Linked DNA regions of Homo sapiens. The protein of the gene in region 7 purifies or fractionates together with the protein of the main gene of each other region. This does not show direct contact. Each region holds a gene or a part of one and is shown on either strand. Other genes may lie near its edges. The genes, in order: TOR3A, EOGT, IDUA, SEL1L3, UXS1, ORC4 and GIP.

Region 1 (2,214 bases), on a different chromosome or scaffold from region 7:
GAATGTGTGTTTATGAAGCAGACAGGGTACTTGGGAACACAGAGGGCAGACTATAATCATCTCACATTGTCAACCCTGGGTGGGCACAAGAAAAGTGGTAAGAAAGCCTGAGCTCCTTTTCTGGGAATGCTTGGAAATAGTAGTTTGCACTGGCCCCAAGAACAGGCGCAGTGGTCTCTGAAGCCTGAGACTCTGAGTCTCACTGCAAGACTTTACCTAAAGGAGACACAGCTGTAGAGTTCTTGACATACGCTGCAGACAGCACTCCTGGAGTTGAGAGATGAGATCCAACCTCACCCAGCCCCTTCAGTCGGGGCCAGGTGTGGTGGCTCACACCTGTAATCCCAACACTTTGGGAGGCTGAGGCGGGCGGATCACTTGAGTCCAGGAGATCTAGACCAGTCTGGCCAACATAGTGAAACCCCGTCTCTAGAAAAAAAACAAAAATTAGCCAGGTGTGGTGCTGTACGCCTGTGGTCCCAGTTACTCACAGGCTGAGATGGGAGGATCCCTTGAACCTAGGAGGTGGAGGCTGCAAGGAGCCCAGATCTCACCACTGCACTCCAGCCTGGTTGACAGAGCAAGCCCCTGTTTCAAAGAAACCAACAGCAACCCCCACCCCCGCTAAATTCCAGCTAGGTTCAGTCCTAGGTCAGACTCCATGTAACTTTGGTCTTGCTTTCAGACAATGGCTTTGGCCACAGCCGTCTTGTGAAGGAAAACCTGATTGACTACTTCATCCCCTTCCTGCCTTTGGAGTACCGTCACGTGAGGCTGTGTGCACGGGATGCCTTCCTGAGCCAGGAGCTCCTGTATAAAGAAGAGACACTGGATGAAATAGCCCAGATGATGGTGTATGTCCCCAAGGAGGAACAACTCTTTTCTTCCCAGGGCTGCAAGTCTATTTCCCAGAGGATTAACTACTTCCTGTCATGAAGGCTAGAGGAAGACTTCCTGGAACTGCCTTTCTTCCACTAACAGGACCCTGGGACCTGTAGGAGCACCCCGTTTGGGACTGTGAGGTGTTTGAGGGTGTGGACTGGCATCCAGCAGCCACTAACAAACACACAACTGGTGTGTAAAAGGCAGGCCTTACATTAGAAGCCAAGCCAATCCTTTTTCTTTTTTTTGGAGGTCCCACCGAGATAGATAGGAACTTGGATTGCTGAATTCAAAAACAGAGCCCATTCTTAAGATCACTTGGTGCCTTAAAGACACGCATTCCAAAGTGGAATGTGGTTGAAGAAAGTGGGCCAGGTGGTTGAAGAAAGCCATGTGGGAGCTCAGCAAATCCCAAGGGCTTATTATGACACTCCAGATGGTCTCCTTAGCATCTCAGCTCTTCTGCAAGGAAGAGCTTGGGTGTTAGGCCTCAGAGGCTGTAGGGTCCTTGGGTTACAGAGCCGGGGAGAACGAAGTTCTGTGACCCAGGGGTGGAGAATACACTCTAGGTTTGCAGGCTGGTGGGCTTTCAAATTGGTACTTCCAGAGGAAAGCCAAGCTGCTTCTGTTGTGAGCGAATCAGCCAAGAGCCTGAGGCTGAAGGGAAAAGTACACAGAGGAAGATATTTTACAAACCAGGTCAGTGTAGGCCAAGACTTATGGTCTACAGATTTTGGCGGGGGAGGGGGGACCTTTTCAAAGACAATAGGGGGTCTTGACATGTTTGTTGTATGTAAAGATGATAAGATTAAAATTTTTGATTTTCCTAAAATCCTTGGCGTACTTTCTGTTTCTGAGACCTAGCAAAATTTCAAACAAACACTGGGTAATCCTGATAAGGCCTGGCAGAGACAGGGCAGATGCTGGCACACACGGAGCTGGCAGGGTATGTGACTGGTCTGCCTGTCTAGTCTGTTTGCTTTGGGACCACATCAGTGAAGCCAAGTCATGCCAACCTCCTACTGAAGAGACTCCCATAGCACATTGCTCTTATATATGAAAATGTTCACTCCTGTACTCTCAGCTATAAAAAGAAAAGCAGTCATTCTGAGGATTAAATGGCACCGTGTAGACATGTAGCACTGTGCCTAGACACAGTGTTCATTATGTGCCTTTCCCCTTTTCTTGGTTCTTCTCCCATGCCTCTGGAATAACACAGGTCTTTTTTCCCTATGTTTTTTATATATTAATTATACACACATATAGAGTCAGGGTGTCACTATGTTGCCCAGGCTGGTCTGGAACTCCTGGGCTCAAGCTATCTTCCTGCCT
Region 2 (3,500 bases), on a different chromosome or scaffold from region 7:
GGCCAATGATGTTAACAGTCAGAGTAGCATCTACCTTTGGAGAGGGGGATGGGGGTAGAGCCTGGGAGGGAGACTGAGGTGCTGACAATGTTCTATTTTTGGACCTGGGTAAAAGTTACATGGGTGGGTTCACTTTTTCACAATCCAAACTGTACCTTTTTCTGTATGCTTTTACATACTTTAATATATGTGTATTGTTTTTTAAATGGGTTCCCCAAAACACATTTTTATTTTTTAGATTTGAGGTCTCATCATATTGCCCAGGCTGGCCTTGAACTCCTGGGCTCAAGTAATACTTCTACCTTGGCCTTCCAAAGTGCTGAGATTATAGGCATGAGCCACCATTCCTGGCCTTGGCATGGACGTTTGACCTCAAAAATTAACATTATGTAAGTAACCTATGTGACTTTGTAAGTGAATAAAACTTGGCAATTGTGAGTTAATAAAAATGGATTTTTAAGCTGATTTTTTTCTTTCATTAGCAAACAGTAAGTACTGTATCTACTATTATAAACACATACTTAATTCAGATGCAACTGAGGGATTCACTCGGTTTCCGTCACTTCCCAGAAGCTCATGCCAAATTATGTACAAATGAAGTAACATTTTCCATTTGAGAGTCTCCATTAATATCTGCAAGTGCCGTAAATAAAGGCAAATATTTCCGAAACAGATACGTTAAAAATATCTTACCATGACTGCAGAGGGCTTTTGCGCTGACCTTCAGACGTCAATGTACGGATGTCAAGTTTACAGTGCCCTCCAATTTCACCACTCTGGAAAAAGTCCTCCTTAAATCTGGTATATAACAAAACATTAAGTTAAGTTCAGAAAACGTCTTCATGACCCAAGCACGTGGGTTGTAACTAAAGTGGATTACCAATTTCCAAACTGAATTTTTTAAAAGAATTTAACTATTTACAATAGAAAATTTCAAGTGTATATGAAAGTAACAGAATCCTATCAGGACCCTAATGTATCCACAACCCAACTTTGCAATGCGATTAACTCATGGCCTGTCTGAGTCATCCATCCCCCCACCCATTCCCCAACCCCTCTGCCATATCATCAAAAACAAATTCAAGATATACCCCTTCAGCAAGGCTTGGTGGCTCACACCTATAATCCCAGCACTTTGGGAGGCTGAGGTGAGAGGATCACCTGAACTCAGGAGTTTGAGACCCGCCTGGGCAACGTTAGAAGACCCCATCTCTTCAAAAATTAAAAAATTAGCCAAGCCTGGCGGTGCGCTTCTGTATCCCAGCTACTTGAGAGGCTCAAGTGGGAGGATCACTTGGGTTTGGGAGGTCACAGCTGCACTGAGCCATGATTACACCGCTGCACTCCAGCCTGGGCAACAGAGCAAGACCCTGTCTCAAAAAAAAAAAAAAAAATCCCTGGATCTGAAAATATTTCAGAATTTATACTAGATGTTAACATTAACCACTAAAGTACCTGTCATGATTTCTCTTGATGTTTCTTAAATCAAGATAGAGATTGGTTGCTCTGCAGTACTGAAGATAACGGGAACACACCAGACTTGAGTCACTCTGAAGGTTGAGCAAAAGAAAAGAATGACTCTGAGTATTAACACAGCAAAGACTCATCCGGACTTGCTAGACACACTGACAGCACGGATACCCTCACATTCAAACCACACAACATGACAAGGAAAGCTCTCCAAAGACTGCATCTGCTGAAGGATATTTTCTCCTTCCCAGCAGACCCTGGCCAAGCATACTTTTGCCAGTTTCCCACTTTTAAGTTACCATGGAAAACTCCCCAACGATCTGTCACCTCAAATTTTAAAGCCAAGAGCTGTATATGTGGCTCAGTTCAGTCCCCTTTAAAAGAAAAAAAAAGTACCCAGATCCAGTACTACTACCCCCACAGCTATATGAAAAAGCAGCTTCCAAAAGCCAAAAGAAACAAGGAAAAATGCACATGTAAGAGACATTAAAAGCAGGGAGGGAAGTTTGCCAGTTTTAATAAGAGGTGCTTTCTGCAAACCGTAAAGCTTGTGGGAGCCTCTGTCTCAACAGCAACATGAGGGCAATATTTTCTAAATAATTGAAGAAAGGAGTCGAAGAGTCAGCTACCAGAGCCTGATTCTATTTCAACCAATCTGGGTTATGCTCAGAACTTCAAAAACTTTTATCTGCTCTGGGTTTTATTTATAGATTTAAATGCCATTTTAATTGTTTTTCCCAAAACTCCCAATGAACACAAAGTCTCAATCTTGACCTGCATGGTGTTTTGGAGTCTGTAGTTGGTAAAATATTGCAATGGACTGAATGTCCGTGTCTCTGCCAAATTCATATGTTGAAATTCTAACCCCCAATGTGATGATATTGTTTAGAAGCTACCCAGTCTATGGTATTTTGTTATAACAGCCCAAACAACTAAGACAAGGATCATACTCTGCTAGCACAAAGCAAATCAAGGTAAATCTTAATCAAAAGAACATTCTACAAGCCACCTTGAAAGAGGAGTGCAAGATAGGGGTTGTCATTATTATCTTGCCCTTTCCATGTGAACAGCTAGACTTGAGCCAAATGTGCAAGACAGAACAGAACTCTGTTAAAGACACCCTGCGGCCGTGCAGTTTAATGGCATGCCTCACATCCTGAGGCCTCATTCACCTTGCTAGAATGCTCAAAGCTCTATTACGTGACACCCTCCAATAGCTCTATAAAGTATATACTCAGTTTTTGAATGTGAGTAAATTAAAAAATTTTTTTAGTTCTCCAGTGTGGTTGGAGATCGGAGACCCCTGAGATGTCAGAGACTCAGGGTTCAGGATCATTGAACAGTGTACCTTAATCGTAAGTGCTTACAACTTCATCAACCTTTAAAAAATAATGCTGAGCCCTTGGCCGGGAACCAGGCCCTGCTGCACTGAGCATTTTTATCTGCAGAACCTCATTTCTTCCTTACCATATGCTACATAATGGGCATGGCTTTAAGGCAGAGGAAATTGAAACAAGGAAAGCCTAAGTACCTTGTCTAAGACTCAGGATCTGAATTGTAGTTGAGAGCCTGCTCTTGTATTTACTACCCCAAACCACCTCTTGACAACGTGTTTATCTGATCCACTGAGGTACGATATGGTATGGTTGAAAGTAAACTGGAAAAAAACCTGCATTTTAATCCTAGATGTGTAATTAATTTTAAAAGGTAGCTGTGCAGTCTTGGAGAAGTTGCTTAACTCCTCTGAGGACCCTGTTTTCCATACTGATAAAGTGGCATCAGTAGTATCTGCTATAACGCTTATAAGCATCAAACGAGATAACACACAGAAAAGCTTTCTGCAAACTGTAAAGCTCTGGGCAAATATAGAGCAGTATGGTGGTGTTATATCATCTGTCCCAAACTATCTGAGAATGAATTTGTAAAGACGCAGTTTATCAATTTCTCTTCATTAGCACATGTTTGGGGGAATGATTCTAAACCTAAAAATATTTCGACTGTCTTAAAATATGACTATCTGATAAATGTGG
Region 3 (4,131 bases), on a different chromosome or scaffold from region 7:
AGTCACGGCTACTCTGTGCGTGCCAACCAGGAGCTGCTGGCTGTGGGCTGCTGCAACGTGCTACCCGCCTTCCTCCACTGCTTCGCCACCAGCGCCGCCCTGGCCAAGAGCCTGGTGAAGACAGCCACTGGCTGCCGGACACAGCTGTCCAGCGTGGTCAGCGCCACCGTGGTGCTGCTGGTGCTGCTGGCGCTGGCACCGCTGTTCCACGACCTACAGCGAAGCGTGCTGGCCTGCGTCATCGTGGTCAGCCTGCGGGGGGCCCTGCGCAAGGTGTGGGACCTCCCGCGGCTGTGGCGGATGAGCCCGGCTGACGCGCTGGTCTGGGCAGGCACCGCGGCCACCTGTATGCTGGTCAGCACAGAGGCCGGGCTGCTGGCTGGCGTCATCCTCTCGCTGCTCAGCCTGGCCGGCCGCACCCAACGCCCACGCACCGCCCTGCTGGCCCGCATCGGGGACACGGCCTTCTACGAGGATGCCACAGAGTTCGAGGGCCTCGTCCCTGAGCCCGGCGTGCGGGTGTTCCGCTTTGGGGGGCCGCTGTACTATGCCAACAAGGACTTCTTCCTGCAGTCACTCTACAGCCTCACGGGGCTGGACGCAGGGTGCATGGCTGCCAGGAGGAAGGAGGGGGGCTCAGAGACGGGGGTCGGTGAGGGAGGCCCTGCCCAGGGCGAGGACCTGGGCCCGGTTAGCACCAGGGCTGCGCTGGTGCCCGCAGCGGCCGGCTTCCACACAGTGGTCATCGACTGCGCCCCGCTGCTGTTCCTAGACGCAGCCGGTGTGAGCACGCTGCAGGACCTGCGCCGAGACTACGGGGCCCTGGGCATCAGCCTGCTGCTAGCCTGCTGCAGCCCGCCTGTGAGAGACATTCTGAGCAGAGGAGGCTTCCTCGGGGAGGGCCCCGGGGACACGGCTGAGGAGGAGCAGCTGTTCCTCAGTGTGCACGATGCCGTGCAGACAGCACGAGCCCGCCACAGGGAGCTGGAGGCCACCGATGCCCATCTGTAGCAGGGCCAGGCCTGCCCAGCAGCCTCTGCTCCCTCCTGGGGACCCACAGCAGACGTCTGCAAGCCACTGCTGAGACCCTTCCCAGGGAGGAGCCACCCAAGAGCTGCACTCTTGTGCCACAGCTGCCCTGGGGAAACCGGGGAACCCCAACTGGGAAAGGAGGCCCTCTGATCACACGCAGGACCCAAACACTCAGAAATCAAGAACCTCTGCCTCCGAGACAGGCTGGCCCACAGTGCTGGCTGGGCCCCAATGCACCGTCCCTCAGCTCAGGAGGGATGGGCCTGACCTGACGCTCAGGGTTGACATCTTATTTGAACAAGGGTCCCCCGCCATCATGCAGCCTCCAAGGTGCCAAGAGGACTCCCTATGCCCAGGCCTGCCCGGTGCCCACCCTGCTGGTAGGAGCCAGCGGCTCTGGCCAAGTGCACGAGGGTCTCTGTGTTTCCAGAAGGCCCCACACACCCAAGTGCCCCTCACACCTCGTGCCTCCCCCTCACAGGGTGGCCACCTGCACCAGCGTCAGGGCCCAGGGTGCTGTGACCGATGAGACCTCAGCTCAGCCCTCAGGTGCAGTGGCCCTACCCAGCCTGGCCAGCAGACACACACAGGGATGCTCACGGGTGCACCAGGAGCCAGGTGCGGCGCAGCCAACCCTGAGCCTGCAGGGAGACCTGCAGGAAGCCCACCGTGCCCCATGCAGGGGCTCCCTCCAGCACACAGCCCTCACCCCAGCACAGCCAGCAAGGACACGCTCTCCCCAACAGGGTGCTTCGGCGGGAGGTGGGGGAACAAGGGGTCTTCCGAGCAGCCCCCAGCCCTCCCCTCCCATCTGTGCCTCTGTAAGGGGCTCTGGGACGCCCAGACCCTGCCCGCCGCCCACCTGGTGGTGACAAGCTCCAGCAGCCAGTGGGTCCGGACCTGCTTGATGCCGCGGTGAGGGACGGCGCCCACATAGGCGAGGTTGAGCTGCTGGTCCCAGCTGAGGACGTACTGGTCAGCCTGGCTGTGTGGCAGCGGGGGGCTGGGGACAACAAAGGGGCGGCTCAGTCCCGAGCCTCAGCATGGCTGGCAGCGCGGCTGACACACACGTTCAAGCCCAGGACTGCCCGGGCGCAGGATCCAGGCGCTGCCCGTGCGTTCAGTGACTAATAAAATGACCCTTAGGGCCAGGAATGTGGGGAGGTCCCATCTTCATGGGGAACGGCAGCAGCAGTAAGACGAGGGGCCAACGCCAGCCCTGGCCCTGGCCCTGCCAGGAAGGCGGGTACCTCAGCTCTAGGTGGAAGGAATGGGACAGGCAGGCCAGGTCCCGCTGCAGGGCCGTCCACTCCCAGGGGAGACTCCTGGTTTACCTCAAAGAGCAGGATCCCGGGCATCGGCCTGGGCTGCAGGGGGCGGCCCAGGCTCACGCCCCGGCGCCCACTCAGGTGGAGGACCCACCCACAAACACGGCGGGGGGCGGGCCCGGGAGAGCCAGGGCCCCAGAGGAGGGAGCTCCGGTCTCTGAAGCTCTCACAGTGCGCAGTCAGGGGGCGCCCGAGCTCTCCCCGTGCGGCCAGGGGGTCCCGGAGGCCGCGGAGCGCTCACCAGAAGCCTGTGCTCCTCCAGAAGCGCCGCAGGGGCCACAGCGCGCGGGCCGCGTCCACATGCACCAGGTGCGGGGCCTCGGCCGGGGCCACCGGGGGCGCGGCCAGGAGCGAGGCCAGGAGCGCCAGCAGCGCGGCGCGGGGGCGCAGGGGACGCATGGCCACGCGTGCTCGGGGACTGCGGGGCTTCGGGCTGCACTGCCGGTTCCGCCTCCGGGTCGGAGTCTGGGCGCGCACCCCATGTGACCGCCGCCGCGGGGCGGGGCCTTGGTGAGGGGGCGATGGCCGGGTGGGAGGGGTTGGGTGGCCTCGGGGAGCCTCGGGGAGCCGGGAGCACGGCAGGGCTTGGAGCCCCGCTTCCTTGCGGGCCTCAGGGGCTGCTCTGAGGACCGATGACTCGGAAAGCGCTCAGAAGAACGCTTCGCCCGTTGGTGCTATGTGAGTTGAGCCATTACTGTCTTGTTTTTCTCTGTTTTTGTGTGTTTTTGAGACAGAGTCTTGCTTTGTCGCCCAGGCTGAGGTGCAGTGGCGCGATCTCAGCTCACTGCAACCTCCATCTCCGGGGCTTCAGCGATTTTCTCACCCCAGCCTCCTGAGTAAAGCGTGCGCTTTAGCAGGAAGGAGAATTACCCCAGAAGAGCACACTGGGCCCTCCTTACACTTGGCTTCAGATCCATGGATTCAACCAAGCAGACTGAAAATATTGTTTTAAAGCCAAAGCAATACGAAATAATACATATTTTAAAACAATACAGTATAACAGCTATTTACAGAGCATTTACATTGTTTTAGGGACTATAAGTAATCTTGATTTAAACTACACAGTAGGATGTGCGTAGGTAATGTGCAAATACTGTGCCATTTTATATCAAGTACTTGAGCACCTGCAAATTTTGGTATCTGGGAGGGTCCTGGAACCAATACCCCGAGGATACCATGGGACAACTGTAGTACATGTGTAGTCCATGTATGCATGTGTGAATCCAAGCAAACATTGTATAAAAATAATAATGGAAAGAACAGGCTTGGTGCGGTGGCTCACACCTGCAATCCCAGCACTTTGGAATTGCAGGCCAACACGGGAGGATCACTTGAGGCCTGGAGTTTGAAATCGGCCTGGGAGATGTACCAAGACCCCATCTGTACAAAAAAAAAATTTAGCCAGATGCGATGGTATATGCCTGTGAGGCCCAGCTACCCACGAAATTGAGGTGGGAGATTGCTTGAGCTTAGGAGTTCAAGGCTGAGACGGGCCATGATCACACCACTACATTCCAGCCTGGTTGACAAAATGAGACCCCATCTCTAAAAAAAGAAAAGAAAAAAAGAACAGTCTACTAACAAAACGAAAATACTGGACAATAATCCTCTCTAAGTTGGGAGAAGGATAATTAGAGTTACAGTGTTCTGGGTCTTTTTATTTTGGGGAGAGGGGTTAAAATATTGCTTAACATTAGGTCTTCTTATGTTGAAATTGCATTAAAAGTGATTAGCCATTTAAAAGTGAAATAGTGTGTATATATTCCAAATT
Region 4 (3,500 bases), on a different chromosome or scaffold from region 7:
GACTATCTGAGTGACCCTAGGACCACCCAGACCCAGGGACCTTTCCACCACCGTGGGAGGTATAAGCAGCAAGAAAGACTGAGCTGCCTGGTGGAATGCGAGCCAGGAGTCAAACACAAGTTCCCTTGAAGGAAAGAATACATATATTTATATGTATTCTTTATATATATAAATAAATATATGTTCTTTATATATAAGTATATATTCTTTATATATATAAGTATATATGATGAAGATCAAGACATTGACTAATCTATTGAAAGTATCAATTGAGCTATCTTGGTATTTTTTATTGATCAGTCAATGTTTTTGTTGAAATGCTTTAAAAAATAGTTGAATGGGCTGGGCACGGTGGCTCACGCCTGTAATCCCAGCACTTTGGGAGGCCAAGGCAGGCAGATCACGAGGACATGAATTGGAGACCAGCCTAACCAACATGGTGAAACCCTGTCTCTACTAAAAATACAAAATTTAGCTGGGTGTGGTGGCGTGCATCTGTAATCTCAGCTACTCAGGAGGCTGAGGCAGGAGAATCGCTTGAACCCGGGAGGCGGAGGTTGCAGTGAGCCGAGATCATGCTACTGCACTCCAGCTTGGGCGACAGAGTAAGACTCCATCTCAAAAAAAAAAAAAAAATAGTTGAATGGGCAAGGTGCGGTGGCTAACGCCTGTAATCCCAATACTTTGGGAGGCTGAGTCGGGCGGATCACTTGAGGTCAGGAGTTCAAGACCAGCACAGCCAACATGGTGAAACCCAGTCTCTACTAAAAATACAAAAATTAGCTTGGTGTGGTGGCAGGTGCCTGTAGTCCCAGCTACTCAGGAGGCTGAGGCAGGAGAATGGCATGAACCCCGGAGGCGGTGGTTGCAGTGAGCCGAGATAGCGCCACTGCACTCCAGCCTGGGCAATAGGGTGAGACTCCATCTCCGAAAAAAAAAAAAAAAAAAAAGTTGAATGTTTTAGAAAGAGTCCTAACAGCAAAGAAAAACATACTAGGCTTTGGTCATTATGTCTGTTTCTGAGGTAAATCAAGCTATTTATGTGTGGGTATTACCTAGTGTCAGCATGCTTTAATTACAGGTCCAGTGCCCCAGAGGACATACTCCTTGAGAACTACCAGCTAACATTTGTGGTTTTGTTTTGTTTTTGAGACAGAGTTTCACTCTTGTTGCCCAGGCAGGAGTGCAATGGAGCAATCTGGGCTCTCTGCAGCCTCTGCCTCCCAGCTTCAGGTGATTCTCCTGCCTCAGCCTCCCAAGCAGCTGGAATTACAGGCATGCACCACCATGCCCCGCTAATTTTTGTATTTTTAGTAGAGATGGGGTTTCACCATGTTGGTCAGATTGGTCTAAAACTCCTGATCTTAGGTGATCTGCCTGCCTTGGCCTCCCAAAGTGCTAGGCGTGAGCCACTGCGCCCAGCCCATTTGTGGAGTTTTAAACACTTTACATTGTGTTACCTCATTTGGTTATCTCAACTACAACAGGCAGTGGATGTACTACTATTTCTGCTATTTACGGAAGAGGGAACTGAGGCACAGATAGGCTCCTTCCTTTGCCCAAGGTCACATAGCTAGCTACTGGCAGGGCCAGAATCTTAGCAGTGTGCCTCCCACACCGATGCTGTTAACCACCGTCCTGCGCGGCTAGCCTTCTGAATGCAGGACAATTTAATGTGGCAAATGCCATGATGTGTCAACTATATATCACAGAGCATATAAACTCAGGAGGAAAATGAAGGTAGTTGGAGCTGAACGCAAAATGGATGGACAGCTCAACTGCAAGTCTTGACTATAAATCATTAATTTTTAAATACAACTGACTGGAAAAAATGCAAATCACAAAATGACAAAGCTCTCTAACTTATAGCAACAATCCTCACCCAAAGCTGCTGACGGGAGGCTCCTAACTCTCAAATACATTTCCTCTTTTTTACAGTCAGTCAGCACCCAGAGTTCATTATTAAGTTTGTTTCACAACGCCATGGCTGCTACATGCACCCATCCCTGTCTTCCCCCAGCTGTGGGGCAGGTCTCAGGACCTTGTGCACCAGCTCACTGGGGAGACACCAAATGGTAGAAACTTGGTCTCTGAGCAGCATCGCCTTTGCAGCAGCTTCTCCTCACCTCCTCCATGCCTCGATTTCCCTGCCCCATCATCCCATCAGCTTCACTGTACTGCTGGAGTAACTTCCTACTTAAAAATTATTGATAGGCCAGGCACAGTGGCTTATGCCTGTAGTCCCAGCACTTTGGGAGTCCAAGGCAGGTAGATCCCTTGAGGTCAGGAGTTCAAGACCAGCCTGGCCAACATGGCGAAAGCCCATCTCTACTAAAAGTACAAAAATCAGCTGGGGGTGGTGGCGTGCACCTGTAATTCCAGCTACTCAGGAGGCTGAGGCAGGAGAATCACTTGAATCCGAGAGATGGAGGTTGCAGTGAGCTGAGATTGTACCACTGTACTCCAGCCTGGGCGACAGTGAGACTCCGTCTCAACATAAATAAATAAATAAATAAATAAATAAATAAATAAGGTCAGTTGCAGTGGCTCACACCTGTAATCCCAGCACTTTGGGAGGCTGAGGTGGGTGGATCACCTGAGGTCAGGAGTTCGAGACCAGCCTGACCAACACAGAGAAACCCTGTCTCTACTAAAAACACAAAATTAGCCAGGCGTGGTGGCGCATGCCTGTATTCCCAGCTACTCGGGAGGCTGAGGCAGAAGAATCACTTGAACCCAGGAGGTGGAGGTTGTGGCGAGCTGAGATTGCACCATTGCACTCCAGCCTGGGCAACAAGAGCGAAAGTCAATCTCAAAAATATATAAAATAAATAAATAAATAAATATAAAAATTATTGACAACTTTTTTTTTTTTTTTGACACAGGGTCTCACTCTGTTGCCCAGGCTGGAGCGTGGTGGTGCAATTTCAGCTCACTGCAACCTCCGTCTCCGGGGTTCAAGCGATTCTCATGCCTTGGCTTCCCAAGTAGCTGGGATTACAGGAGTGAACCACCATACCCGTCCCATATTTCAACTCTTAACATTAGTTCTAACAGGGCTGGCAGGTACCACTGTCGGGGCACATTTTGGAAATGTGTGGAGTTTTTTTCTTTTTCTTTTTTTTTATACTTTTCGGCCCTTACTACTCAAAGTATGCTCTTACTAAACAGCAGTGTGGGCATCATCTAGGAGCTTGCTAGAAATGCCAAATCTCAGGGCTTACCTACTGAACCAAAATCTACTGAACTAGAATCTGCATTTAATAAGAATGCTGGATGATTCATATGCACATTAAAATTTATAAGCACTGGGCTAGAATGTACTTATTGAAATCAATATTATTTTATTACAATTAGTTTCTTTTTATTTCCCCTTTATATTGCTGTTAGGGCCCTATATTGATTTTTAAAAATGTGTGTAGATGGGTTAATTATCATGAATTTCATTTCAAGGTACTAAAAAATATGTTTCAAAATATTTCCTATGTGAGAGGCAATGG
Region 5 (3,500 bases), on a different chromosome or scaffold from region 7:
GTCCATGACTGGTGAGTTTCAATAATTTATTAAAATAGCATATTTAACCATGGTTAACCAAGAATATGTTAACTTTGTGCCCCCCAACCTGCCCCCGCCCCAGATACGCAGCAAAACACAGTAGTGATTTCAAATATCCTTGATCATGACCAACAGGAATATTTCAAAGTCAAGTTTGCAACTCAAAAGTAGACCTTGGAAAAACTCTGAATTAAAAGAGAAACATAAAGCTCTCACACAGAATTCTTTTATCTGCCCTAAAATCAATGCCGGCGCACCACCACCTGACAATACTGCTAGGATTTTTCTTTATGCATAGTATAACGACTCATTTATTAAGTACCCACTTTCATAAATAAAATCGGCATTTTTTGTCCCGCTTAATGTTCCTTTTCAGCTTCACAAAGAAACCAGTAAATAAAACTGTCAACGACAGTCACAACATATGCTCTCACAGCAAGATAAAAAAACTTGAAAATACGCAGAGATGCATCTACGCTATTTTACATAAAAAGAGAGATTCAAAAAGTGCAAGGCAAAATCTGCAGTTTTTTGAGGGGAGCTTTTAGGCACATCCATTTCATTAAAGCAAGCTTCAGAATGAAATTCCAGTTTGTTCTTCATGACACCTGTTAAAGTCTTTCTTTAAACGACAACAAAAAAAAGCCAAAAATACATCCCATCAAGTGTACAATGGTAGTCTTGTGTCCTAAAAGTGAGGAGTTCAGCTGTGGCGAGTCCGTCCTTTCTTTATTCTGGCAGGCTTTGGTTTGGGGATGTACTGATTATTTGCCTGGTACTCGAGTTCTTTACGGAAGTAGTGAATTGCTTTGTTTAAACCTTCCTCCAGCGGGACCTGTTTAAAGGGAAAGCAAGAAAGGGAGACAAGGTCACATTGACAGAAGGGCATCGCAGGAAGGAAGTGCCACCTTGCAGGAAGGAAGTGCCACCTTGCAGCCAGTCAGGCCTCCTTCAGAGGAACACTCACAGAACCATGCTTTGGTTGTGACAGCATCCAGCATCACGGCCCACCGAGAGAAGCCAGAAGTCCTTCAGGGCCGCTTTCAGAATGTACTGTGGAGCTGACAAGTGTCACTCTTACTGACGTAAAGTGAGCTCCACCTCACAAAAGACCCCGACTACCTCTTGCTGGTATAATGTCTACTCCAGTTTGAATCGGCTGGCAAGATTGTTTTTCAGATAATGCCCATGTGCCCCATTCTTTCAGAAGAAATCCACCTTGGAGTGGCGGGAAGATGCTTTGGGAAGGTGATCTGCATCTGATCAACACGCCTGATTCTCCCACGTGACATCAACCCTTTGCACTGCCTAGCGGATCATGGCCCACTTGCACCCCCACCATACTAAGAGGCTGAGTCTGAGAGGGGACCCACGGCAGCCCACACCACAGAAAGCAACCTTCATCTGAAGCTGCTTTGCAGCCAACAGGAAACCAGCCAGATCAACTGCTGATTAACAGCAGAAAGAGAAAAGGTGAAGGGAGGCACTGCTAAGGGGTGCTGGGGCACCACTGGGGGAGAAGGTCTGTCAGCTTGACTGCAGCGATGGTTTCACAGGTGTCAAAATAGATGAAAACTTATCAAATTGTATCTTCTAAATATGGGCAGTGTGCAGTTTGCCAATTATATCTCAACAAGCTGTTAAACACACACACTTGGGACAATTAAGATGGATAATGCCTGTAAGTTTCTTTGGATCATATCCCTCAAAAATTTATTATAAATTAAAACTACTACTAGAAGAGAAACCAGTGGTAGATGGCTCACATTCCAAGAATGTTAGAATATTATAGGTCTAAATTCCAGAAAGATAAAGATACTGAGCATACACACACCTCACATAAAAAGCAATAGTTAATACATAGTGAATGTATATTTAAATCTTCAAAAAATATTTTGTTTAAAAATATAGGCTCTCCTTACAAAGGGACCAATGGCCCCTTACAAAGCTTCAAAAAAACAAGAAACCTAGGCTGCTATAACCTGTTTTGCACAGCTTGGGATTATTCGATTTTGTGAAGTCTGGGTGTAATTGTATTTTTATTTCACTCAACAAATTTCTGCAGTTTTTAGCAGATTACGTAGACTTGTACATGACAGAATGAAATAAGGATCAGGCTGGAACTCTCATGTCCCTTTGAAGTTCAATATTCTAGGATTCTACTCACTCAGCTCTGACTATGCACATTTTAAAAAGGTAAACTGAGCTCTCAACTGCGTCCCTGACTCTCTGACTGCGCCACAACCCAAGGGCCATGCCAAGATGCTCCTACATTTGTTGAGCACCCAGTGTGTGTCAGGTCTGACAGGTGCCGGGCTCCTGCTGGACACAGGGCTACACTACACGCCTCTGCCCGAGGGGAGCCCGAATTTCAGTGGGGCACATGAGGGTGGGCAAAGAGGGAACAGCCAGGCAGAGGTGACAGTAAATGAGGTGGGCTTGCTTCTATAGATGGGGCCAACCCAGCCAACCTCCCTACACAGGTGGTCTCTGAAGGACACAGGCAGCCCTGAGGACGAGCGTTCTCTGGCGGGGAGGAGCCTGCAGTCACCCAAGGCAGGAAGGGCACAGCAGGCGGCAGAGCAGAAGCAGGCGGGGTTCAGGCTCAGCCCCAGGGAGGCAGCAGCCGCCCCACCCTGCCCCCTTCAGTAGACACACTGAAGACAACAGGAAGGCATGCAGTTCCCCTTCCTCCACACCCTTCAGTCTCGCACGCTTCCAACCAGGGGCTCCACTGCGGGGCTGATGGGGACCACTTGCCCCTGACCTGGCCCCGCACACTCAATAGGCAGGCAACTGGGGCTACGCAGGGCTCTGAGCGTGTGCTGCCAGCGCCCTTGGCACAGCGTTCACAGTCAGGGGTGTGTGTGTGTGTGTGTGTGTATGTATGTGGGAGAGGGAGTGTATGTGTGAATGTGAGTGTGGATCAGTGAGTGTGCGCATGTGAGTGAATGTGAGAATGTGTATGATAGTGTGAATGTATATGTATGTGTGAAAATGAGTGTGTGTGAGTATACTTGTATTAAGTGTGTTTGTATGACAGTGTATATATGACAGTGTGAGTGTGTGGGAGACAGTGTGAGTATATGTGTGTACAAGTGTTTGTATGGCAGTGTATGTGTATGAGAGAATGTAAGAATGTGTGTGTGCATGAGAGATTTTACGAAAACAGAGCCCAGAGCAGGGGCTTCCAGCCGCTTCCCAGGTAACATTCTCTGAGACTCCTGATACAGGAGAGGCTGTTTACCACTTGGAGAAAACCCTCTATCTGCCTGGATGCCGAGCCCACCTTGCTCCTCCGGGGGCTGTCTGACAAGGGTCAGTGCCTACAGGACAGCAGACACAGGACACGGGAGGCCCCTCCCCACAAGGCAGCATTAACTCCCTGCACTTACCACGGGCTCCCACCCCAGCATCAGCTTTGCTTTTTTGATGTCTGGTTTTCTTTTCTGTGGGTCATCCTGGGCTTCGGAGAGAAA
Region 6 (3,500 bases), on a different chromosome or scaffold from region 7:
TATATAAAATAAAATTATCTAAAATATAAACCACATACAGATAAAACTAAAGCCTCATTAAAGTTTACTTCAAACTAATAACATAAATCCTAAAGCTTAACTGTGATGTTCTTTTGAGATAGAATTTAGGAGAAATGACATTTCAACTGTCTAAGAAGAAAATTTTTAAAAAGTATATAATTTGTATTACTGCAGCATTATCCTTCAGCAATATTAGAAACTTTGTGTTAATTTACTAATTTCTAAAATTTGTGTTTTAATTGCTTTAAATCATATAGCAAGGAACATTTAGCTTTATTGCCTTTTAAGATACCTGAACATTTTCATTCCACTTCTCAGCAAAAACCTTGTCTGGAAACTCTGCAGGTAGAGATAACTGTTCTTTAAATATTTTAACATACTGTGGAAAACCAAATGAATTCATTAAGTGTATCTGCCGGTGAGAAAATCTTGACTTCACTCTTTTTTCTAAGAGTTCCAAAATATCCTTAAAAACAAACAGAAATCTCTATAAGGAAGATGAATGTTTTTAAAAAAACAAAAACACTGTACCAATGTTAGAGGTATAAGTAAACTATCACCTATAATTAGTAATGTTTAGTCTACAATACATAATTAAACATTTAAAACATTTTATGCAAACTAAATAATCCACCTCCAGGCATTTGCTGGCTTGGTGATGTCATGCCTTTTTCCCACCATGTTACTCTCAGCTAATCTGTAACATTCCAAGACCCAACATGACTGTTTAAAAAAACTGACAATATTGAATAGCTATATGTCACAATAACACCAAGAGTGTCAATAAGGAATTCTGTACATTCTATGAAGAACTGAGATTAAAAAATTAATAGCATGATAGGCAGCAGGAACCAACTTTAGGAGAGGAAAGTGGCAGAAATGCAACATGGCATTCGTAAGTTATCTTCCGGCTTTTTTTTTTTTATAGTAATGCTTTTAGACTCTATTTGTATTTGTGCTATTTTTCCTTAAAAAGAAATCAGGAATCAAATTTACTGTCAAAGAACACTAAAAACCAAAGGATAACTAATATGTACTGCTTGTAAGGACATACGAAGTGTTCTTAAATGAAGAAAATACTTCCACAAAACTGATAGGCATTCAAACTATCCAAGACATCAAAAGCACAATAGGTAAGCTGTCTTCCTAAGTCACATATATTGCAGGAACTGTCATTCCTAAATCTCTTTTTAATAATGAACTTGAGCAATTTTTCAAAATATATTATAGTACACAGCATATTATATATAATATATATAATTTATATTATATATGTATATATACATCTATATATATACAGTATAGTATAATATATATTTATTACTTAAGTTACACTCCAAGGTATACAACCAAGACAAATGAAACCAGATAACCACAAAAAAAGTGTATGTGAATGTTTGCAGCAGTATTATTTTTAATAGCTTAAGAAATATAAACAACCCAAATGTCCATCAACTGATGAATGGATAAACAAAGTGTGGTATATCTACACAACAGAATATTATTTGGTAATAAAAAGGAATAAAGGGCTGATATATGCTGTAACACAGATCAACTCTGAAAACATGTTAAAGAAGCCAGTCACACAAAACTATACGTTGTATGATTCAAAAATTACTAAACAGTCAGAAAGTGGATTAGCAGATTAGTGGTTGCATAGGGCTGGGGAGGGAACAGGGGATTTGGGGTGATCACTAAAAGGTACGTGGCTCTTAAACTGTGGTGATAAATGCACAACTCTATGAATAAACAAAAACCCTGTTAATTGTATAATTTAAATGAGTGAGTTGTATGGTATAAATTACATCTCAATAAAGCTGTTTTAAAAACAGTGACATGATATTTGATGACTTTAAGGAATTACAGCTAATATAACAATTATATTAGGGAAATATATTTTTAAAGAGCTCTTATCTCCTAAAAATACATTCTAAAATACTTACTGATAAAATGATATAATACCTAGTTTTTGCCTCAAAATAATACAGGAATGAAAGGAGATGTTGAGGATAAATAAAATTAGTCTGTAGTAATTGAATCTTGGCAATGAGTGGAGAAGGGAATTCAGGGCTCATTATTTATTCTTTCCTATGTATATTGTTGAAATGTTATAAAGATTTTTAAAAGGGGAGTAGTTTAAGCCCAGAAATATACATCTCCACATCTAGCCAGATGACTCTCATAATACCTACGTGAAGAAATCATGATATAGAGGAAAGAATTCAAGTGATCAAAATGGGATCATGGTTAGTTTGGGAAGGTGGACAGGAAAGACTAATAGCCTGAGGTAGGAGGTGGGAGGGTGAATAAAAAATTTTGAATGTTTTTATGAGGTCAAAGAAAAGTATAGTGCCAGCATGAGAACTAAAAGACAAGAAAGGTTATATTCAGAGATTCAGATATTGTACATTTATTTTCTATTAAGAAAGAGTTCTAGGTCACCCATATAGGTAGACAGTGGAAGTAATAATCTATACAAGCAACAATTCAGACCCTAAATTTGGGAATGAAAAGAGATGGAAGTAAATACTGTCTTTGTAGTAGGCAGTAATGACAGAAGTTGGCAATGTGGGCATACAGGAACTAGTAAAAACAAAACAAAACCAAAAAACAAAAATGGAATTACTCCCAATGGGGAAGAAGATGCTTGCTGGCAAAGTCACTACTCCCTCTATACTTTTGTTCTCTCCCTATAAACGTGGATACACAGATAAAATTATACTTGAGGCCAGGCGCAGTGGCTCACGCCTGTAATCCCAGCACTTTGGGAGGCCAAGGGGGGTAGATCACGAGGTCAGGAGTTCGAGAGCAGCCTGGGCAACATGGTGAAACCCCATCTCTACTAAACATACAAAAATTAGCCAGGCATGGCGGTGTGTGGCTGTAATCCCAGCTACTCGGGAGGCTAAGGCAGGAGAATTGCTTGAACCCCGAAGGTGGAGGTTGCAGTGAGCCGAGATTATGCCATTGTACTCCAGCCTGGGCGACAGAGCAAGACTCCATCTCAAAAAAAAAAAAAAAGAAAAAGAAAAAAAATTACACTTGAAAGAACTACACAGTTGGAGAATTATATATATACAATAAAAAAGAACATCTGATAACACTGCTAAGAAGTTACTGGCATTTTATTTGGTCCGTTATTGGGTCAACAACACTCACCACAGCCACTTCCACCCAAAGGAAGATTTTTTTTTTTTTGGCAAGAAGGAGGATGCTTCTTTGATCCTTGTCATCGCCTGCTGCTTTTGGCAAGGAGGAATAAAGATATGTGGAGCACCAGCCAGTGATGTATGAGGGATGTTTATACTAAAGCCATGTATCATAAGCTCTAGAGCACAGGAAAGGAGGGGCAAATGACAGTCACTCTATAGAGAAACAGCACTGGAAGGAGGACTGTTGAAATATGAATTAGAAAAAAGTTTCACTTTTCTGAAAAAGAAAAAGGGTTGTAGGAAAGGAGATGTGAACATGTAAATGTG
Region 7 (4,089 bases):
ACCAAAGCCATAGGCCACTGTCCAGAGCTGGGATTCAGATGACTGTGGACCTACTCTCTCCCACCCAGAAGTAGCCTGTTGCCTTGTGGGAGTGTCCCCCTGCCAGTTAGTGCCACCCTACCCCAAGTCTGTCTTCACTACAAGTACCCTTTTTTATTTTTATTTTTATTTTTTGAGACAGAGTCTTGTTTTGTCACCCAGGCTGGAGTGCAGTGGCACGATCTTGGCTCACTACAACCTCTGCCTCCAGGTCTGGGTTCAAGCGATTCTCCTGCCTCAGCCTCCCAAGTAGCTGGGACTACAGGCACGTGCCACCATGCCTGGCTAATTTTTGTTTGTTTTTTTTTTTTTTGTTTGTTTGTTTGTTTTGAGATGGAGTCTCGCTCCGTCGCCCAGGCTGGCAGGCAGTGGCGCCATCTCGGCTCACTGCAACCTCCGCCTGCCGGGTTCACGCCATTCTCCTGCCTCAGCCTCCCGAGTAGCTGGGACTACAGGCACCTGCCAACATGCCCGGCTAATTTTTTGTGTTTTTAGTACAGACGGGGTTTCACTGTGTTAGCCAGGATGGTCTCGATCTCGTGACCTCGTGATCCACCCGCCTCGGCCTCCCAAAGTGCTGGGATTACAGGCGTGAGTCACTGCGCCCGGCCCCCTTTCTTTTTTCTTTTCTTTTTTTCTTTTTTGAGAGAGTCTCTCTTTGTTGCCCATGCTGGAGTGCAGTGAACTCGATCTTGGCTCACTGTAACTTCTGCCTCCCAGGTTCAAGTGATTCTCTTGCCTCAACCTCCCAAGTAGCTGGGATTACAGCCGTGCACGACCATGCCCAGCTAATTTTTGTATTTTTAGTAGAGACTGGGTTTCACCATGTTGGCCAGGCTGGTCTCGAACCCCTGACCTCAGGTGATCCGCCCGTGTCGTCCTCCCAAGCGCTGGGATTACAGACGTGATTCATCGCGCCTGGCCTACAAGTATCCCTTCTAACTGAGGGCAACTGTAAAGGAAGTAGGGCATAGAAGAATAGTAGTGGGCCCTGTGCCCAGAAGGGAGGAGGAGGAAGAAAAAAGGGGGTACTTAGGGTACCCTACCCACAGGCAGGCCCCAGACAGCAGCTGGAGATAGCCAAATGTTAATCACCAATTAGCACAGTTCAGGTGGAAAGGGCAACTCTATTATGTGTAAAATGGACTTAATGTGGCAGGAGCTGTGGGCTTAATTTCTTGAGATAAGATGCTTTTAGGCTAATCAGCAGGTCTATGCCTAATATAAAGGAGCTGGGGCATGATTTCTTCAGCAGGCTCAGAAGGTCCAGAAATCAGGGGAAGGAGACCCCTATCTGTCCTTCTTCTGGAAGAGCTGGAAAGGAAGTCTGGTAAGAGAAGTGGAGACAGGGATGGATGAGATGACCCGAGAGCAGATGGATCTTGGCAACCCTGAGATGCTCAGCAGCCCTGGCATCTTAGTTTTCTCTTCCTCTATATGAGATGTGAGAAGATAGTCAGGTGCGGTGCCTCATGCCTGTAATCCCAATACTTTGGGAGCCGAGGTAGGAGGATCATTTGAGCACAGGAGTTCAAGACCAGCCTGGGCAATGGAGGGAAACTCGATCTCTACACATAATTTAAAAAATTAGCTGGGCATGGTGGTACATGCCTGCGGTTCTAGGTACTCGGGAGGGTGAAGTGAAAGGTTTGCCTGAGCCCAGGAGGTCGAGGCTGCAGTGAGCCACGATTGTGTCACTGCACTCCAACCCGGGTGACAGAGCGAAACCCTGTCTCAAAAAAAGAGAAAGAGAAATGAGAAGGTAGCGCTGATGTTTCCTTTATTTATTTATTTAGAGATGGAGTCTCGCTCTGTCACCCAGGCTGGAGTGCACTGGCGCAATCTCGGCTCACTGCAACCTCTTCCTCCCAGGTTCAAGCGATTCTCATGCCTCAGCCTCCTGAATAGCTGGGATCACAGGCGCGCACCACCACACCTGGCTAATCTTTGTCTTTTATGTAGAGACAGGATTTCACCATATTGGCCAGGCTGGTCTCAAACTCCTGACCTCAAGTGATCCGCCCACCTGGGCCTCCCAAAGTGCTGGGATTGCAGGCATGAGCCACTGCACCCAGCCTGGTCCATCTTTTGGTAAGATTCCATGTCCCTTCTAGTCACTAACTCCAGTGCACAGCACCCCTCATCTTCCCCCATGGTGTTGCCCCAGGCTCTTAGAAAAGGTCCAAACTGGCAAGGCGCGATGGCTCACGCCTGTTATCCCAGCACTTTGGGAGGCCCAGGTGGGCAGATCACAAGGTCAGGAGTTCGAGACCAGCCTGGCCAATATGGTGAAACCCTGTCTCTACTAAAAATACAAAAATTAGCCGGGAGTGGTGGCACATGCCTGTAGTCCAGGCTACTCGAGAGGCTGAGGCAGAAGAATGGCTTGAACCCAGGAGGTGGAGGTTGCAGTGAGCCAAGATTGTGCCACTGCACTCCCACCTGGACGACAGAGCGAGACTCCATCTCAAAAAAAAAAAAAAAAAAGAAAAAGGAAAAGAAAGGGTCCAAACCTCAGGGCTTTGCCCCTCTCCAGCTTTCAGAACCCCTACTGGTTGCTCTCTCAACATGTCCTGGCTTTTTTCTGTCTTAGCTCAGGAAATAACCTTGGAAGATGGTGGCCACGAAGACCTTTGCTCTGCTGCTGCTGTCCCTGTTCCTGGCAGTGGGACTAGGAGAGAAGAAAGAGGGTCACTTCAGGTAGGAGTGGTGAGAGGAAAGGGATGGGGCAGAGGAGGGGTTAGGGGATGACAGGTTCTGGATTTGTTTCTAGGGGGAGATGAGAAAGGGAAGGAATCCAGGCTAAGAGGTAGGAAGCTCCAGGGAAATACCTGCCGGCAGCGTGAGTGCAAAGTGAGCACTGAGCCAGAGAGGATTTATTGTGTGCTGCTGTTACAGTGGGAGAGACTATGGTTAGATCTCTGGCGGGACTTCCTGGTGGTTAATTGTCCGAAGATGACAGAATCTCCCTTCCCAATAAATGTTTTATTCATTTATGCATGTTTGCTTCTTTCTTTTCTTTTTTTCTTTTTTCTTTTTTTGAGACAGGATCTTGCCCTGTCGCCCAGGCTGGAGTGCAGTGGCGTGATCGCAGCTCACTGCAGCCTCTGCCTGCCAGGCTCAAGCATCTTCCCATCTCAGCCTCCCGAGCAGCTAGGACCACAGGCATGTACCACCACGCTCGGCTAGTTTTTGAATTTTTTGTAGAGATGAGGTTTCGCCATGTTACCCAGGCTTATGAATGCATTCTTTTTTTTTTCTATTCTTTTCTTTTTCTTTTTTTTTGGGGGGGGATGGAGTCTCGCTCTGTCACCTAGGCTGGAGTGTGGTGGCACAATCTCGGCTCACTACAACCTCTGCCTCCTGGGTTCAAGCAATTTTCCCTGCCTCAGCTTACCGAGTAGCTGGGATTACAGGTGCCCACCACCACACCCGGCTAATTTTTGTACTTTTAGTAGAGATGGGGTTTCACTATGTTGGTCAGGCTGGTCTCGAACTCCTGACCTTAGATGATCCATCCACCTTGGCCTCCCAAAGCGCTGGGATTGAAGGCATGTAATCCCTGTGCCTGGCCCTTTTTTTTTTTTTTTTAATTGGAGTCTCACTTTCTCACCCAGGCTGGAGTGCACTGGCGCGATCTTGGCTCACTGCAACCTCCGCCTCCCGGGTTCAAGCAATTCTCTGCTTTAGCCTCCCAAGCAGCTGGGATTACAGGCACCTGCCACCACGCCCGGCTAACTTTTGTATTTTTAGTAGAGATGGGGTTTCACCATCTTGGCCATGCTGGTCTTGAACTCCTGACCTCGTGATCCACCTGCTTGGACCTCCCAAAGTGCTAGGATTACAGGCGTGAGCCACTGCGCCTGGCCTGTATCATGTAGATGTTAAGAACATAGATCTGAGCCCAGATGGCCTGGGGTAAATCCTGGATCTGTTACCTATACGGAGTGGCAGATAATAAGACAATAATAAGGTAATCTCTGCACCTTGGTTTCTCCATTCACAAAATGGGGATATAAATAGAACCTACCTCATAGGATGTTGTGAGGA

The links.
Region 1: the proteins of GIP (region 7) and TOR3A purify together in Homo sapiens (affinity purification with mass spectrometry; one large-scale study listed by BioGRID and IntAct). This does not show direct contact.
Region 2: the proteins of GIP (region 7) and EOGT purify together in Homo sapiens (affinity purification with mass spectrometry; one large-scale study listed by BioGRID and IntAct). This does not show direct contact.
Region 3: the proteins of GIP (region 7) and IDUA purify together in Homo sapiens (affinity purification with mass spectrometry; one large-scale study listed by BioGRID and IntAct). This does not show direct contact.
Region 4: the proteins of GIP (region 7) and SEL1L3 purify together in Homo sapiens (affinity purification with mass spectrometry; one large-scale study listed by BioGRID and IntAct). This does not show direct contact.
Region 5: the proteins of GIP (region 7) and UXS1 purify together in Homo sapiens (affinity purification with mass spectrometry; one large-scale study listed by BioGRID and IntAct). This does not show direct contact.
Region 6: the proteins of GIP (region 7) and ORC4 purify together in Homo sapiens (affinity purification with mass spectrometry; one large-scale study listed by BioGRID and IntAct). This does not show direct contact.

Annotation. Positions count from the first base shown.
Region 1 is NC_000001.11:179,094,283-179,096,496, forward strand, and holds the end of TOR3A (torsin-3A precursor), read left to right. Parts: intron 1-685; coding exon 686-936; 3' UTR 937-1,714; downstream 1,715-2,214.
Region 2 is NC_000003.12:69,003,685-69,007,184, forward strand, and holds part of EOGT (EGF domain-specific O-linked N-acetylglucosamine transferase isoform a precursor), read right to left. Parts: intron 1,551-3,500; coding exon 1,456-1,550; intron 799-1,455; coding exon 694-798; intron 1-693.
Region 3 is NC_000004.12:985,713-989,843, reverse strand, and holds the start of IDUA (alpha-L-iduronidase isoform a precursor), read right to left. Parts: upstream 2,801-4,131; 5' UTR 2,760-2,800; coding exon 2,602-2,759; exon of another isoform or gene 2,036-2,601; coding exon 1,895-2,035; exon of another isoform or gene 1,012-1,894; coding exon of another isoform or gene 1-1,011. Other genes in the region: SLC26A1 (sulfate anion transporter 1), read left to right, coding at 1-1,011.
Region 4 is NC_000004.12:25,751,489-25,754,988, forward strand, and holds part of SEL1L3 (protein sel-1 homolog 3), read right to left. Parts: intron 1-3,500.
Region 5 is NC_000002.12:106,093,302-106,096,801, forward strand, and holds the end of UXS1 (UDP-glucuronic acid decarboxylase 1), read right to left. Parts: coding exon 3,417-3,500; intron 857-3,416; coding exon 725-856; 3' UTR 10-724; downstream 1-9. UniProt on the Homo sapiens protein: Catalyzes the NAD-dependent decarboxylation of UDP-glucuronic acid to UDP-xylose. Necessary for the biosynthesis of the core tetrasaccharide in glycosaminoglycan biosynthesis.
Region 6 is NC_000002.12:147,947,738-147,951,237, forward strand, and holds part of ORC4 (origin recognition complex subunit 4), read right to left. Parts: intron 488-3,500; coding exon 314-487; intron 1-313. UniProt on the Homo sapiens protein: Component of the origin recognition complex (ORC) that binds origins of replication. DNA-binding is ATP-dependent. The specific DNA sequences that define origins of replication have not been identified yet.
Region 7 is NC_000017.11:48,965,797-48,969,885, reverse strand, and holds the start of GIP (gastric inhibitory polypeptide preproprotein), read left to right. Parts: upstream 1-1,289; 5' UTR 1,290-1,369; intron 1,370-2,632; 5' UTR 2,633-2,653; coding exon 2,654-2,739; intron 2,740-4,089. UniProt on the Homo sapiens protein: Potent stimulator of insulin secretion and relatively poor inhibitor of gastric acid secretion.